3 separate regions of the Homo sapiens genome follow, and regions 1 and 3 are each linked to region 2. Evidence: fine-mapped expression QTL. A gene starts in region 2. Each other region holds a variant in brackets. All regions are shown on one strand. Distances are between the middles of the regions. Region 1 overlaps TP53BP1 (tumor protein p53 binding protein 1). Region 2 holds the start of TUBGCP4 (tubulin gamma complex component 4). Region 3 overlaps TGM5 (transglutaminase 5).

What was found. PIP is the estimated chance that this variant, and not a neighbour inherited with it, causes the effect.
Region 1: its variant is the best candidate, but not a certain one, in a credible set for the expression of TUBGCP4 in whole blood (INTERVAL, PIP 0.72).
Region 3: its variant is the best candidate, but not a certain one, in a credible set for the expression of TUBGCP4 in whole blood (TOPMed, PIP 0.57).

Annotation. Positions count from the first base shown.
Region 1 is chr15:43,448,776-43,453,775 of GRCh38, reverse strand. All of the region lies in intron 12 of TP53BP1 (tumor protein p53 binding protein 1), which reads left to right. Among named protein-coding and RNA genes, the nearest start is that of TP53BP1, 42 kb to the left of the region's middle. The variant A/C (reference allele first, on the strand shown) is at 2,884.
Region 2 is chr15:43,368,715-43,374,066 of GRCh38, reverse strand. It overlaps TUBGCP4 (tubulin gamma complex component 4), which reads right to left and starts at 2,966. Exons shown (of 18, transcript NM_014444.5): 1 at 2,635-2,966. The coding sequence starts at 2,712. It overlaps ZSCAN29 (zinc finger and SCAN domain containing 29), which reads left to right and starts at 3,024. Exons shown (of 6, transcript NM_001372080.1): 1 at 3,024-3,509; 2 at 4,042-4,471; 3 at 4,940-5,144. The coding sequence starts at 4,154. RefSeq lists an enhancer at 2,836-2,955 and a silencer at 3,056-3,325.
Region 3 is chr15:43,250,308-43,255,307 of GRCh38, reverse strand. TGM5 (transglutaminase 5) reads left to right here. Exons shown (of 13, transcript NM_201631.4): 5 at 1,674-1,802; 6 at 2,372-2,549. Among named protein-coding and RNA genes, the nearest start is that of TGM5, 14 kb to the left of the region's middle. The variant G/A (reference allele first, on the strand shown) is at 1,928.

The sequences.
Region 1 (5,000 bases), 80 kb before region 2:
ATCAGGAGTTCGAGACCAGCCTTGCCAACATGATGAAACCTCATCTCTACTAAAAATACAAAAATTAGCCTGGAATGATGACGGGTGCCTGTAGTCCCAGCTACTCTGGAGGCTGAGGCACGAGAAGCCGAGATTGTATCACTGCACTCCAGCTTAGGTGACAGAATGAGACTCCGCCTCAAAAAAAAAAAAAGTCCCTATTTATTAGCTTTTATATTTAGCACTTTTTTTTTATCTTAAGAATAAGAAATGTTAGAGCTAAAAAGGAAGTGAGGGGTTATTGGATTTAGTCTCTTCTTAACGTCTTTTGGCTAGTTAATGATAGAGGTGAGACTAGAACCTAGGTCTCCTGATCCCAGCTGTGCTTTTTCTTCCTGTAAAACTGCTTAATACAGATTATTTGATTCTGAAGAGCTGTAGTGAAGAACAATGTGAATAACCTAAAATTCTGTAGTAGAGTATTTTTCTAATTGTATTATGTTTAAATACTGCTAATGACCTGTGCCAACAAAATATCAGGTCTCTTTGATTGTTTTAATATAGTTATTTTGGAGTACTTTTTTTTTTTTTTTTTTTTTTTTTGAGACGGAGTCTCACTTTTTCGCCCAAGCTGGACTGCAGTGGCGCTATCCCGGCTCACTGCAAGCTCCGCCTCTTGGGTTCATGCCATTCTCCTGCGTCAGCCTCCCGAGTAGCTGGGATTACAGGCGCCCACCACCACGTCCGGCTAATTTTTTGTATTTTTAGTAGAGACGGGGTTTCACCGTGTTAGCCAGGATGGTCTCGATCTCCTGACCTCGTGATCCGCCCGCCTCGGCCTCCCAAAGTGCTGGGATTACAGGCGTGAGCCACCGCGCCCGGCCTGGAGTACTTTTAAATTAAATGCAAAAGAAGCTTCTAAAACAGTGAGATATTCTATTATTTTAATAGTATTCTTCATGAATTCTTGTTTACATTGTTAATTGGCAGAGTCAGCTTTTTTTGCCGTAGTAAAACTTATTATTTTATTAACATTAATATCCAGATTATTGAAAATGCTAGTGATTTCGTGTTTATTTCATGATTTTAGTTCTTGGGCAAACAACAAAAAGTAATGAAGACAGTGGTTGGAAAATAGTATTTATGAGGAGAAGTTAAATAAAAATAATTTTAACTACAAATTAGAACATGAAGGGAGAATAATAGCTTTTTGTCTTTTTTTTTGTTTGTTTTTGAGCCAGGGTCTCACTCTGTCGCCCAGGCTGGAGTGCAGTGGCACCATCAATGTTCACTGCAGCCTTGACCTCCCGGGCTCAGGTGATCCTCCCACTTCAGCCCCCCGCCCCGAGAAGCCGGGACTACAGGCGTGTACCAGCATGCTTGGCTGATTTTTTGTAGAGACAGGGTTTTGCCATGTTGCCCAGGCTGATCTCGAACTCTTGGATTCAGGCAATCCACCCACCTTGGCCTCCCAGAGTGCCAGGATTACAGGTATGAGCCACCGTGCTCAGCCGAGAACAATAGTTTTTAACTTAGAAAATTGTATAAAATAAATCATTCAGAAGAGCGTTGCAAAAAGAACAGAAAAATATTATTTTGTACTTAAAAATATAGTTGTTTAGTTGCTAAATGTTGAGAGACTAATTTTATTTTTATTTTTTTGGAACAGAGTCTTGCTCTGTCGCCCAGGCTGGAGTGCAGTGACATGATCTCGGCTCACTGCAACCTCCGCCTCCCAGGTTCAAGTGATTCTTGTGCCTCAGCCTCCTGAGTAGCTGGAATTATAGGCACATGTCACCATGCCTGGCTAATTTTTGTATTTTTAGTAGAGACAGGGTTTTGCCATGTTGGCCAGGCTGGTCTCGAAGTCCTGGCCTCAAGTAATCCACCTGCCTTGGCCTCTCAAAGTGCCGGGATTACAGGTATGAGCCACTGGGCCTGGCCAAATTTAAATGATAGTAATCTAAAAAGTAATGGTTCTTCACTTTTACACTGTTGGTGGGACTGTAAACTAGTTCAACCATTGTGGAAGTCACTGTGGCGATTCCTCAGGGATCTAGAACTAGAAATACCATTTGACCCAGCCATCCCATTACTGGGTATATACCCAAAGGACTATAAATCATGCTGCTATAAAAACACATGCAGACGTATGTTTATTGCGGCACTATTCACAATAGCAAAGACTTGGAACCATCCCAAATGTCCAACAATGATAGACTGGATTAAGAAAATGTGGCACATATACACCATGGAATACTATGCAGCCATAAAAAATGATGAGTTCGTGTCCTTTGTAGGGACATGGATGAAATTGGAAATCATCATTCTCAGTAAACTATCGCAAGGACAAAAAACCAAACACCGCATGTTCTCACTCATAGATGGGAATAGAACAATGAGAACACATGGACACAGGAAGGGGAACATCACACTCTGGGGACTGTTGTGGGGTGGGGGGACGGGGGAGGGATAACATTGAGAGATATACCTAATGCTAAATGACGAGTTGATGGGTGCAGCACACCAGCATGGCACATGTATACGTGTGTGACTAACCTGCACATTGTGCACATGTACCCTAAAACTTAAAGTATAATAATTAAAAAAAAAAAGAAAAAAAGTAATGGTTCTTCAGTCTGAAAAGACAGAATGAAAGGTGTGAATTGGGTGAGTTTTGCATTTGTTCATCTACTATTAGAAGAGCACTTTTTTGTTGTTAATAGATTTATTGATTTTAAAAAAAGATACATGCTTGGCCAGGCATGGTGGCGTGCACGCGTAATTCCAGTTACTTAGGAGGCTGAGGCTTGAGAATCACTTGAACTCGGGAGGCGGAGGTTGTAGTAAGCTGAGATTGCACCACTGCACTTTAGCCTGCGCAACAGGGCGAGACCCTGTCTC[A/C]AATAAATAAGTAAATAAATAATGCATGCTTAATTTTGAAAAACATTCAAACAATACAAAGTAGAGATTCTGAGTGGGGAGGGTGTGGGGAGAGAGGGAGTTGGAAGGAAAAGAGAGAGTGAGTACAGAGAGGGAGAGAGAGAATTACTTTAAATGTCTCCATTTATAGATAACTTGTCACTGTTAACAGTTTGGAGACCTCTTCAAGTATCTGTCTATGGAGAGCTCCTGTTAAACCTGTAAAAAAGCAAGATGGTACTTGGAAGCCCAATCTTGTTCAACACAGAACAAATATTTGGTGGGTTGATGATGTGAAAAACTGTAAGGAGTTCAGTAAGTCTTTAAATCCATAAGTAATAGTCTGTAATAGTTAATAATGATCAGGGGATCTAGATGTGTTTTAGGCTCTAGCTATAACCTTTATTTGCTTACTTGATAGAATGCCATCTTAATTGGCTATTAATATCAGAGGCAGACTTTTGGGGTAGACTTCATGCATGATATCGCCGGATATATAAATTCTTACATTTTTAACTAGATGGCTTTTAATAAATTCTTAGGGGTAACCAGTTCTTTTAAGAACAAAGAAGAAAAATGGGTTTAAAACTATAACAGAAAGTTAGGAGAGACCTTCTTAACATTTAGAGTTTTAAATATTGCTTTGGAGTTATTCTCTAAAGTCCTTAAAGGACACATACTCCCACTCAGGTGGTTTCAAAATTAGTATTGAGTTTCCTTTTGTTTCCTCATTCATATCCTTCATTATTGTTTGGTATGCTGACCTACAACATGATAGCCCATGATTATCTGGAAAAACAAGAAGGGATTTGATAATTTAAAGAATGTAGGATTGCTAAATGTTAGAGAAATAATGGAATATGTGGAAAATTCCGTAAGTTTAAAAGGATAAAATATACCAGCAAATGTATTTTTAAGGATTTGGCAATAGTTTGAGTAGATGTGTGGTGTTTTCCAGATGAGGGAACAAAAGCATAGAAATGGGAAACCTTTGGAGGACATTGAATAGAAGCTTTATGAACGTGAATAATTAAAGAAAAACTGGAGATATAGGCTGCTACTAGTTAGTTGAATGCTGACTATAGAGTTGGGAATTTGTCTTCTAGTGAAAACCTTGAAGTTTTTTGACCAGGAGCTAACAAAGCCATGTTTTCTAGGAAGGCTGCAGAAAGTGTGCAGAAAGAATGGGGGTTAGGGAGAGTGGGAGACTTTAGGCAGAGGAAGTGATTGATAGGCTATGGTAATAATCCAGGAATGAGGCATTGGAGACCTGAGGAGAGTAGTGGCAGTGCTGTCCCTAGGGCCTGTAAAAGTCTGAATTTTCCATTAGGTTATAGTAATGCAGTTAGATAAATGGTGCTAAAATTACTTTCCATAAGTTTTATGTAATACTGTGCAAAGGAAACCTTGTTACAGGGATATATTTTCAGCGATTAATGCTTGCATATTGCATTTGCGTAATATAGTATGTCACATAGAAAGGTCTGCTTAAAGATTTCATGCACATTTTCAGAAGTCTGGAATATATGAGGCTTTGCAAGGTGTTTTTTAAGTTTCTGTATCTCTTCTAAGTTCTTTATTAGAACAACTTGCTTTATAAGGGGCTACCACAGAATGAATGCTTATCTACCTGACCCATTTCTCTTTTCTGTAACTATGGTGGATGTCTGTCAGTTAGATGTAATGTTGAGATTCTTCATCCATACTGTTTACAGGTTTGTTTTTGTTTTGTTTTGTTTTGTTTTTTTGAGGCACGGTCTCGCTCTGTCATCCAGGCTGTAGTGCGGTGGCACCATCTTGGCTTACTGCAACCTCTGCCTCCCAGGTTCAAGCAGTTCTCCTGCCTCAGCCTCCTGAGTAGCTGGGATTACAGGCACCTGCCACTACACCCAGCTAATTTTTGTATTTTTAGTGGAGACAGGGTTTCATTATTTTGGCCAGGCTGGTCTCGAACTTCTGACCTCAAGTGATCCATCCGCCTTCGTCTCCCAAAGTGTTGGGATTACAGGCATGAGCCATGGTACCTGGCCCCTCTTTACAGTTTCTTTAGCTGAGCATATGTACTTTAATCCTTTATTTCTAAAGACCATTTCTTTTTC
Region 2 (5,352 bases):
TAGAAAATTGATTAGGAATCCAATTAATGTAGATTTTAATGACACAATGCTAATCACATCTTCAAGTTAGTAACTTAAGAGGTTGCACAACACGGTGCTTAAGAACCTGGTCTCTTGCCGGGCGCAGTGGCTCACGCCTGTAATCCCAGCACTTTGGGAGGCCGAGGTGGGCGGATCACGAGGTCAGGAGATCGAGACCATCCTGGCTAACACGGTGAAACCCCATCTTTACTAAAAAAACTACAAAAAAATTAGCCGGGTGTGGCGGCAGGCGCCTGTAGTCCCAGCTGCTCGGGAGGCTGAGGCAGGAGAATGGCGTGAACCCAGGAGGTGGAGCTTGCAGTGAGCCGAGATTGCACCACTGCACTCCAGCCTGGGCGACAGAGCGAGACTCCATCTCGGAAAAAAAAAAAAAAAAAAAGAACCTGGTCTCTGGAGCCCAACTGCCTGGGTTTGAATCCCTGAGTTGCCTCTTACTTGCTTGAAAGCTTAGGCAAGTTACTATACCTGTCTGTGCCTGTTTTCATACCTATAAACTGAAGAAAATAATTGTGAGGATTAAATAAGTTAATACATGTGTAAAGCACATATCCCAACCACATAGCTAGTGCTCAATACACATAAGCAATTTTATATTATTAACAAGACAGCTCTACCAGTTATCAAGTGATACTACTATTAAAATTGGCATTTGAGCGTTTCTTGTTGGCAGAGTTTTCGAAAAGTTCAATATCTAATTATTCTGAAACAGCAAATAATAACTCGAAGTTACTGATACCATTCTATATAACACAGTTATAGGAACAGGCTGAGAAATCCTGCATTAGAATAATGGTCATTTGAACTTATTGATTTGGTAGTTTTGTTTACTTTTAATTTATAAAAATATTTGATTTTATAGTTGTTTAAGAGTATTATGCTTGAGTTTATACCTAGCTTATGTATATACATATTCAATATAATAAAATAATTTTCATTAACACTTGGCACTCATGACAACTTTTCCCTTTACTCAAATGTAAAAGACACTGCTCTGCAGAAATTATGTAATATTTGCCATCTTTGTCTTCTTTTCTTCCATCAATACCTAAACACCTGCTATGTGGCAGAAACTGTGCTAGGTGCTCTGGGTAGATGAATGAAGAAGACCACTGGTCTTCGCTCCCAGGGGCAATCTATGCGGGAGAAAGGCTAAAAACAGGTAACAACAATACATTATGAATTGTGACAAATCCTACAAGGGAAATAAACAAGTTGATGGAGAATAATGGCATCAGGGGAGGATGCTTAAAGATGTGCTCAGAGAAAGTTTTTCTGACAAAGTGACTTTAAAGCTGAGACCTTGAGGATGAAATGGTAGAAAATACATGATTGAGAATTTTTCATAAGAAAGAAAGGAAGGGAAAAGATGAATTACTTGTGGTTGTCTCCCCCACCCCCTCCCTAGCTATCTTTCCTGTACTGTGTTATCTCTTCTTATTTTGGACCATCAGGCACCCACATACTTCCTAAATACTGTCCTCCTATATGCCTGGCATTGTACTAAGATCTATGGAGAAAAGTGAAACATCGAATTAGTCTTCAAAGACCTACAGGTGAAAGATAACAATTCAAACTCCACCACACAAATCTTCACCTGTTTTTTTCAAAAATTCACCTAAACTCCCAAACTCCAAATACATGTTCATAAATAATAACGAAAGGAAACTGTTTGATTTATAGGTTTTATAGACTAAGAATGTACTTTTTCTGCTCTTCCACAGTCTCCTAAGAATCGGCATGTCTTGGTGATCAGACGGACCTAGATTTCAGTCTTGCCACTACTAGGACTGGCCAGCATAAAGTTTTCTGAGCTTCAGTTTGCTCATTTGTTAACTGGTAGAAACAATACCTAAGTGGACTAAATTATTGAGAGCATTAGATAACATTACTGGAAGCAGAAGCAGGTAAAAGTAGTTCAAATACTGAAGCCAGACAGACCTGGCTTCAAAACTAAGCTCTGTTAATTACTAGCTATGACCCCGATAGTTATTTAACTATTCTAAACCTAGCTTAATCTGTAAAATGGATAAGGTGGTTGTGAGGATTAAATAAGATAATGCATACGGAACATCATACATTCCTGGTTACACAAAGGCCCCCTACCAAGTGCTTTACCTAGTGCAGAAATTTTCTGGTAAAGGAGTAATGAGGGAAACACCACACGCTCTCGATTTCATTTATTTCCTTCAACAAACTTTACTGAGCGCTTACCATGTGTTTGGGAGCTGTGTATTTGGCCCAGTACTTCAAAACTCAAACAATGCACGTGTGAAAATAAATAGGAGAAAGTGCCTCCCACACTTCTATATCATTCCCCAGCAACTGTCAGACACCTGGACCTCAGGCCCTTTCCTCGCCCCGCCACAGGTGGGGCTCTTCGAGGTCTGCCCTCCGTTTTCTAGCCTAGGCCCGGCCTCTCTAGGTGTCGCATCAGCCTTGACCCTAAGGGGCTGCCCTCCAGTCACCTGTCCAGGGATACGCCCCCAGCCCTGGAAGCCCCGCTCGCTAGGTCCCTCAGCCTACTCCCCCAGGCGCTGGCTCAGGTCCCCCCTCCTGCGCTCCCTGGTTCCCGCGCTCTGCGCCGGACAGTACCTGCAGGCCACTCCGCTTGTTCCAGGTGAAAATGGACCCAGGGTACCCGCTCAGAGCCAAGAGCAGTTCGTGGATCATTCCCACGGCGGACCTCGAGTCCCTGGTTATGTCACCCCCTCCTCCAGCGCACCTCCAGGCGACCACGAGGGGAGTGCTTCCCCTTCCACACGCGCACCGGCCCCTGGGTCGGGCGGTTTGTGCCGAATCAACCCACCGAGACAATCGCTGCGGCGGAGCGGACGGGAAGCTGGGAAGGGGTCGCGGGGGAGTCCCGGAAGTTCGGCAGCTCAACGGGGTCCACCAGCTACTCCCGCCCGGGCTCTGCGGAGACTGAGTCGCGGTCGCTGCCCTCGCGCATGCGCCCTCGGTGCCCCGAGCCGCCCGCTCGGACTTCCGGTTTGGGAGCTGTACTTGGGAGGCTGGAGAGCCGGGGCCGGGGCCGGGGCCGGGGCCGGGGTCAGGGTCGGACCCCGAGTGGGTGAGGCTGGCCCGGAGGCAAGGATGCGAGGGGGTTGAGGGGCAGCTCGAGAGGGAGACGCTCCCAGGGGTGGGCTGGAGGGCGCCCTCAGGGCGCCTTAGCCGGGTCAGAGGCCTCTGGAGGGACCGCACGACGGCTCCGGGTTACCCGGCCGGAGGGAGCGGAGACAAAAGAGGCCAGAATCCCGCAGCCGCTGCTCCTTGGGCTGAGAGCTCTGCGTCCGCGAACCGGCAGCACCTGGAGCCTCTGGCCGACACCCGAGCCCGTCCTCAGGAAGCCCGTTACTACTGCTCCTCGGATTCCGTCTCTCCTGCCCAATGTGACTCTCCCCAAGCCCCCATGGTCCTCGCTTTGGAGCCAAAACCAGCTTCTCTCCTTGCGCGAGGTTTTCCGACAGGTAGCTCCCTAATCCTTGCTGAGCGGCTACTACTACGCGGGGAAAACAAAGACCCGAGATTCTGGACGTGATTTTTGCCTGGGGTGGGCTTTGGGAGTTGTGCAGCCCGAGGGGGCGGGGCGGACGCAGAAGGCCTCGGGAAGGACTGCGGAGATACTGGGGGAGATCAGCTGCGACCAGCTGGACAGAGGCTTTTTGTTGCCTTCAAGCAGGATGGTGACTTGTCTTTAGATCCTCTCGAACTCCAGCTCTCCTATATGGTTCGGACTCACTGTGCAACATTGGCCAGGGAAGTTAAATGGGATCGGATTTGGAGGAGGTGGGAGAGGGGCAGACAGTACTTTTATTCTCTGCTGCTTCCTGGGGCTGCCCTGGAAGTCAACCAGAAAAGCAGTTTTTGCAAAGTCTATTTACTGAAGATTGTGCTACCTTAGAAGGCCACTCGGAGCACATGGAAAGGCAGGCCAGCTCTGGCAAGACTTTAGACATATGAATGTATTCCTTCTGATAGTGCCATCTTTCTCTGCCCTAGGAAGAAACACCTCTTACAGTCATCTGCAGGGGATTCTCCAAGGACATGGGAAGATAGATGTAAGCCCTGGAACCCAGACTCCTAAGCGAAGGGAAGCTGCATTCTGCTATTAATGATGGCCAAATCAGCTCTAAGAGAGAATGGCACTAACTCTGAGACCTTCCGACAGCGTTTCAGGAGATTCCATTACCAGGAGGTGGCTGGGCCGCGGGAGGCTTTCAGCCAACTCTGGGAACTTTGCTGTCGGTGGCTAAGGCCGGAGGTGCGCACCAAGGAGCAGATTGTAGAACTGTTGGTGCTAGAGCAGTTCCTGACCGTCTTACCTGGGGAGATCCAGAATTGGGTACAGGAACAATGTCCAGAAAATGGAGAGGAGGCAGTGACTCTCGTGGAAGATTTAGAAAGAGAGCCTGGAAGACCTAGATCTTCGGTGAGAAGGGAGGGGGAATTCAAATTCAAAAGTGTGATACTGGGTGGAGGGCTAAATTAAGATATAGACAGGCTTAAAGAGGGACACAGTCTCCCTTGGTGAGGCTTATACTTCTGGTCTGGTATAGGTAACTTTTTCAGATAGTGCTTGTCTGGAGATGCTTCCTGGGTGTACCTTCACCTACCCTGTCATAATGAGTTTTTCCTATAGTTTCTTAATAGGGAAGAAAGGGGATTTTTTTTTTTCAGCCTGAAGGTGGGTTTACTATTTTGATCGTTTCCTTCTGGAGTTTCAACTGCTTTAAGCTAATGGCAATGGAATAAGACCCTTGTTCGCGTTAACCTCCCTCACCCCTACAACCCTGGCCATGGCTCTGAAAGATGATCTCTTTTGGGGTATTAAATACTCTCCTCTGGGAATGCCCCTCATTATGATCTTGCAGTGACAATTAACGGGGGTTGTTTCTAGGTCACAGTCTCTGTGAAGGGGCAGGAAGTGCGCTTGGAGAAGATGACACCCCCGAAATCATCACAAGAGTTATTAAGTGTTCGGCAGGAGTCAGTGGAACCCCAGCCCAGGGGTGTACCCAAGAAAGAGAGGGCAAGAAGCCCAGACCTGGGACCACAGGAGCAGATGAACCCAAAGGAGAAGCTCAAACCTTTTCAAAGGAGCGGTGAGGAGTAGATTCATATGGGAAGATAGACTGCCATTCCAAGTTGGGAAGTAGGGTTGGGAATAGTGAGTGGGAAAGGGATTTCAGGAGTAAGTGGAAATTGCAGAATATGTGGTTGTTGACATGTAGTTTAGCCTCTGGTATTCATATTACCTCTTGATAAGTCCACAAGAGAATGGCTCCCTAGTTTTTATCGGAACTTGGAATT
Region 3 (5,000 bases), 120 kb after region 2:
GGCTGGAAGGCAGTGGTGAGATCATGGCTCATTGCAGCCTTGACCTCCTGGACTCAAGTGATCCTCCCACCTCAGCCTCCTGAGTAGCTGGGACTACAGGCATGCCCCACCACACCTGGCTAATTTTTTTATTTTTTGCAGAGACGAGGTCTCACTATATTGCCCAGGCTGGTCTCAAACTCCTGGGCTCAAATGATCCTCCCGTCTCGGCCTCCCAAAGTGTTGGGATTACAGGTGTGTGCCATCGCGCCTGGCCCATTTCTGTCTTTCTTCTTCATTAAATATATATTGATCGCCTGCTCAGTGCCAGGCAGGGTGCTAAGTGCTAGAGATATGAAAATGAATACAACATTGTCCCTGATCTTACAGTGTAATGCGGACTCAGACACATAAACAGGTCACTTATCATGAATATGTAAAGATTGAGAGACAGGGGCAGAGTGTTCTGAGAGCCAAGGGGAAGAGCTCTTGGTTGGGCATGGGAGTATCATAGAAGCTTCCTGGGAGAGGAGATGTTTGAATTGAGTTAGCCAAGTGAAGGATAGTGGGAAAAACATCCCAGACAGAGGGAAGGTGTGAGCAAAGACACGAGGGTGGGAAACGGTTTGGCCCGCTGCAGACATTTGGTGTTGCTGGAGAAAAAATGGTAGGGATGGGGGCGGAGGGCAATTATTGATACTTGAGGCTGGAGAGGTAGGTTGGGGCCAGATCTGGGAGGAACTTATGTGCCTTCTGAAGGAGGTCAGAGCTTTGATTCTCTAGGCTGTAGGAGGCCTTTGAAAATTTGAAAACAGAAAAGTGAGCTGATCAGACTGTCCTCTGGGGAAGATTGATCAGAGAAGCCTCCTAATTCTGCATGTTGCCCAGTGTTACACAGGAATAAATGTATTCATTTACACTCATTCTACAAAGAGGTACAGAGTTCCTGCAATGTGCTGGGCACCATGCCAGGCCTAAGGTCCAGAGTTGTGAAGAGAGCTGGACTGAAACAGCCCCGAGACTCAGGCAGGAAAAGACAGACTTGACTACATCACGTAACTGAGTCTCACGCGGAGAGGGCACATACCCAGGGCTGTGGCGCTAAAGCAGGCTCAGGCTCGGGGAAGGCCTCAGAGGGAGTGGCATTCACACCAAGTCTGAAGGACCAGGAGGAGCCAGCCTGCCTTGGGTGGGAAATTTTCATAATTCACATGCAATTAGTCAGCCTAGAGCCCCAGTGAATCACAGGTGCCATGGCAGGTTGGCACCCTCACTTCAGCAGTAGCTGCCAATGCTAAGCTGGGTCAGCAGGTGAGTGTGGAAGCAGGGGCAATGTGGTTTTGGCAGGAACACCCCCTGGTGCTCTAGGAGTGTGGGAACTGAGAGGAGAGGAGGAGCCTTTTCAATCAGTCAGACTCACTGGGGAAAAAACCCAAACAACCCAGGAGTAGCAATAGTCATCTCGGAGTGAAGGGGAGGGATTTGGTGTGCAGGGCATATGCACCAGGTGAATTGTGACCCTAGAGTTTTGAAACCCCACACCTGAATGGGAGGGAATTCATGGCTGTTCTGTTTGACACAGTTACCTTCCAAGTGAGTTTATATTCCACTAGGGTTGGGGGGAAGTCATTACTTTTTACATACTCCCACGTGACAAGCATGGGTGCCTTCCCTCTCTGCCTCTCCCCCCGAAGTTTGAAGACAAAATCATAGACATCTGCCTGAAGCTGCTAGACAAGAGCCTGCACTTCCAGACTGACCCAGCCACAGACTGTGCTCTGCGGGGAAGCCCCGTCTACGTCAGCAGAGTGGTGTGTGCCATGGTGAGGTCCCTGGCGTGCCCGGGGAGGGAGGAAGCTGTGCAGCGGGAGCCCTGCCCACTCACAGTTGCCCCCTGCAGTGGGTGAAAGAGGGACCCTCTGGCAAAGCCATCTTGGATGAGACTGAC[G/A]CCAGAATGTGGGTGACAAGTTTTCTCAGCCGAGCTCTGAAATAGCTGGGTGTGGGTCATCACCTCTATTAATTCCAAATTGCATGTTTTGAGAAAGGGTGAGTGTAGCTCCAGTTTGGGAAATGGTCTTGTTGTTTCTAAATTTCCTCTTTTCTGAAGTGTTTTTTAAAGCTCTCAGAGGTAAGCTCCAGCTTTGCAGGGGATGGGAGGACATGGGTAAGGGGTAGATAGGAACATAATAATAAACTAATTCACAGTGGAGCAGAAGTCAGAAGAGTCAACCCCCATCCTTAGCCCTCCCCAGCAGGTCTGGAAGTCCACAGTAAAATGCTGTCAAAAGTCTCTCCTCTGTTTCTCAGGCCCATGGGTCTTCCAAGGCAGCCCACACATGGCATGTTGAGGAAATGGATGTTTCTAACACTTCTCTATATGGCTTCTCTTCAGATCAACAGCAATGATGATAATGGGGTGCTCAATGGAAACTGGAGTGAGAATTACACAGACGGCGCCAACCCTGCGGAGTGGACGGGCAGCGTGGCCATCCTGAAGCAGTGGAACGCCACAGGCTGCCAGCCCGTGCGCTACGGGCAATGCTGGGTCTTTGCTGCCGTCATGTGCACAGGTAGGAGGTAGAAAGGACCCCACAAAAAGGTCAGAAGTATAGCCGCTCATGTATGAGCCTTCTGAACCATTCCCATCCCAGTCCCACACAGTTCCCACCAAGGGACATTTGGAAGGAAGCCCTTTTCCTCTCTGAAATGTCTCGGCCGGGCACGGTGGCTCACACCTGTAATCCCAGCACTTTGGGAGCCCGAGGTGGGTGGATCCCAAGGTCAGGAGTTCAAGACCAGCCTGGCCAAGATGGTGAAACCCCGTCTCTACTAAAAATACAAAAATTAGCAGGGCACGGTGGCAGGCACCTGTAATCCCAGCTACTCGGGAGGCTGAGGCAGGAGAATTGCTTGAACCCGGGGGGGCAGAGGTTGCAATGAGCCAAGATCACGCCACTGCACTCCAGTCTGGGTGACAAGAGTGAGACTCCATCTCAAAAAATAAATAAAAAAATAAAGTGTCTCATCACGGACCTCAGACTGCACATGTCTGGGCTTATGTCAGACCATGGTTCCGAAGTGACAGTCACACGTCCCAGGACGCCTGACACCCTTGCTTCGTCTAAGCTTAGGCAACTTACCAGCATATTCCTAAGAGCTTGGCTGGGAACTGTCTAGGTTCAAGACAGAAATGAGATGAGAGGCTGAGTAATTAGGAAACTACAAACTGATTAGTGTCCTTTCTGAGCACAGAGAATGGGCTCAATGAAGATGTGTACATGGAAGGGAAACGTGAGTCAGGGCTGTGGTGTGGGCCATGGGGCCAGAGCAAGATGGCAACCCAAGGGAAATGACCTTGAATTTGGAGTTGTTGAGGGCCTGATAGCCTGACTCTGGCCAGAGGGTTAGGGGAAGGAAGAAAATGTGAGGTCAGCTTTTCAGATAAGGAATGGATACTACATTAGTAGAGGAAAAACTAAAAAATACATATGTGGAAAAGATGGCAAATGGAAGTTGGTTTGTGGGTGACAAGAGGAGGAGATGAGGAGGAAATCATGAGGGGAGTGATACTTGGAAATGAGTCACACATGGAGGTGAAAGGAGGAGGCCTTCTGCCTCACCCAGGGCCAAGCACTTGCTCCGGGTCCTCACCCTCACCCTGCCCCACACCCAGGCCTGCTCTCGGCCTCTTGGCTTGCGCATTCTGATTTGGGTGGCGATCAGAAGGTTATTTATTGTGTTAAGCTGGGGAGAGAAGCCAAGCAAGGTTTTCGCTCACAGGATTCTTTAGGGGAATCCAAGAATACCAGATCTGCCCATAGCTTGGTGTTTATTGGGGGCTCAGGCCTTCTGGGTAGAATTTTGTGTGTGACAAAGTTTGTTGCATTTCGTGTGCATATATGTGCCAGGCCCATCTCTGGGCTGTTGGAAGAATGCAACTTCCCTGAAGGAAGCTCAGAGAGCCCCAGGCATCTGTCCAAGGGCACGAGGAGGTGTTGCCACCGAGAGAGAGTGACTTTGCACAGTTGATGAGAATGATCAGTAAGCCCCAAGATTACTCCTCTGCAGCTGCAGAGCCAGCTCTTGAGTTGGATGAGTTGAGTTGGATGAGTTGAGTGCCCAGGTATAAGAAACAAGGAATTCCACAGCTTTGAGACTCCATGTCATGAATATTTGGGTGAAGTGAGAGGACTGAGTCCTTCAGGAAGCAAGCACAAGACTGACAGGTAGAGACTAGATCTTGTATAAGATAGAGAGAGAACCTTCCAGTGTGTGGAAAAGCCTAGCATCTAATGGGCCAGGTATGTGTGTGTAGAAGGAGTGAGCCAGGTTTGGGTGTGGTTGTCTGGAACTGCGTGATGAGAGAAGTGGAGCCAGTGAATGGAGATTATGCAATGACAGTAGACCAATTAACATGTTTGTGAGAATCATGGCCCTTTAGTGGCCTGGAAAACAAAGGGTTGGTCAAAGTAGGTCAAACGTGGCCCAGTCCCCTGTAGCTCAATCAGCACTAACCTTCCCCCAAAGAGCTACCATGTTATAAATTAAGAAATACAGCAGTTTGAAAAACTCATCCCTTCACAGCAATACTTACTGAGTCCTTATTCTACACCAGGCACTCACTGTGTTCCAAGAGCTCTTGGATACAAGATGGGTAAGACCCAGCTTCTGTCTTCAACCAAAGTTAAAATTAAAGATTTAGTCAAACTCCTTAACCTCAAACAGTTCCCAAAGCATGTTTTTTGAAAATATATATGTTATTATTTCATAGCCATAGTAACTAATGTTTATTGGGGACTTCCTTTGTGCCAGGCACTGTGCTAAAACCCTGACAGCCTAGAGTAGTGGAGAAGCTTGTGGACTCTGGAGGCAAGATGCGTGAGGTTGCATACCAGCACTACCATTAATTGGCTGAGTAACCTTGGGCAAGTCATTTAACTTGTGCCTCAGTTTCCTCAGATGTACAATGGGGAAAGTAGTGGTACCTACCTCATAGGATTATTGAAGGGATTGAGTGACTT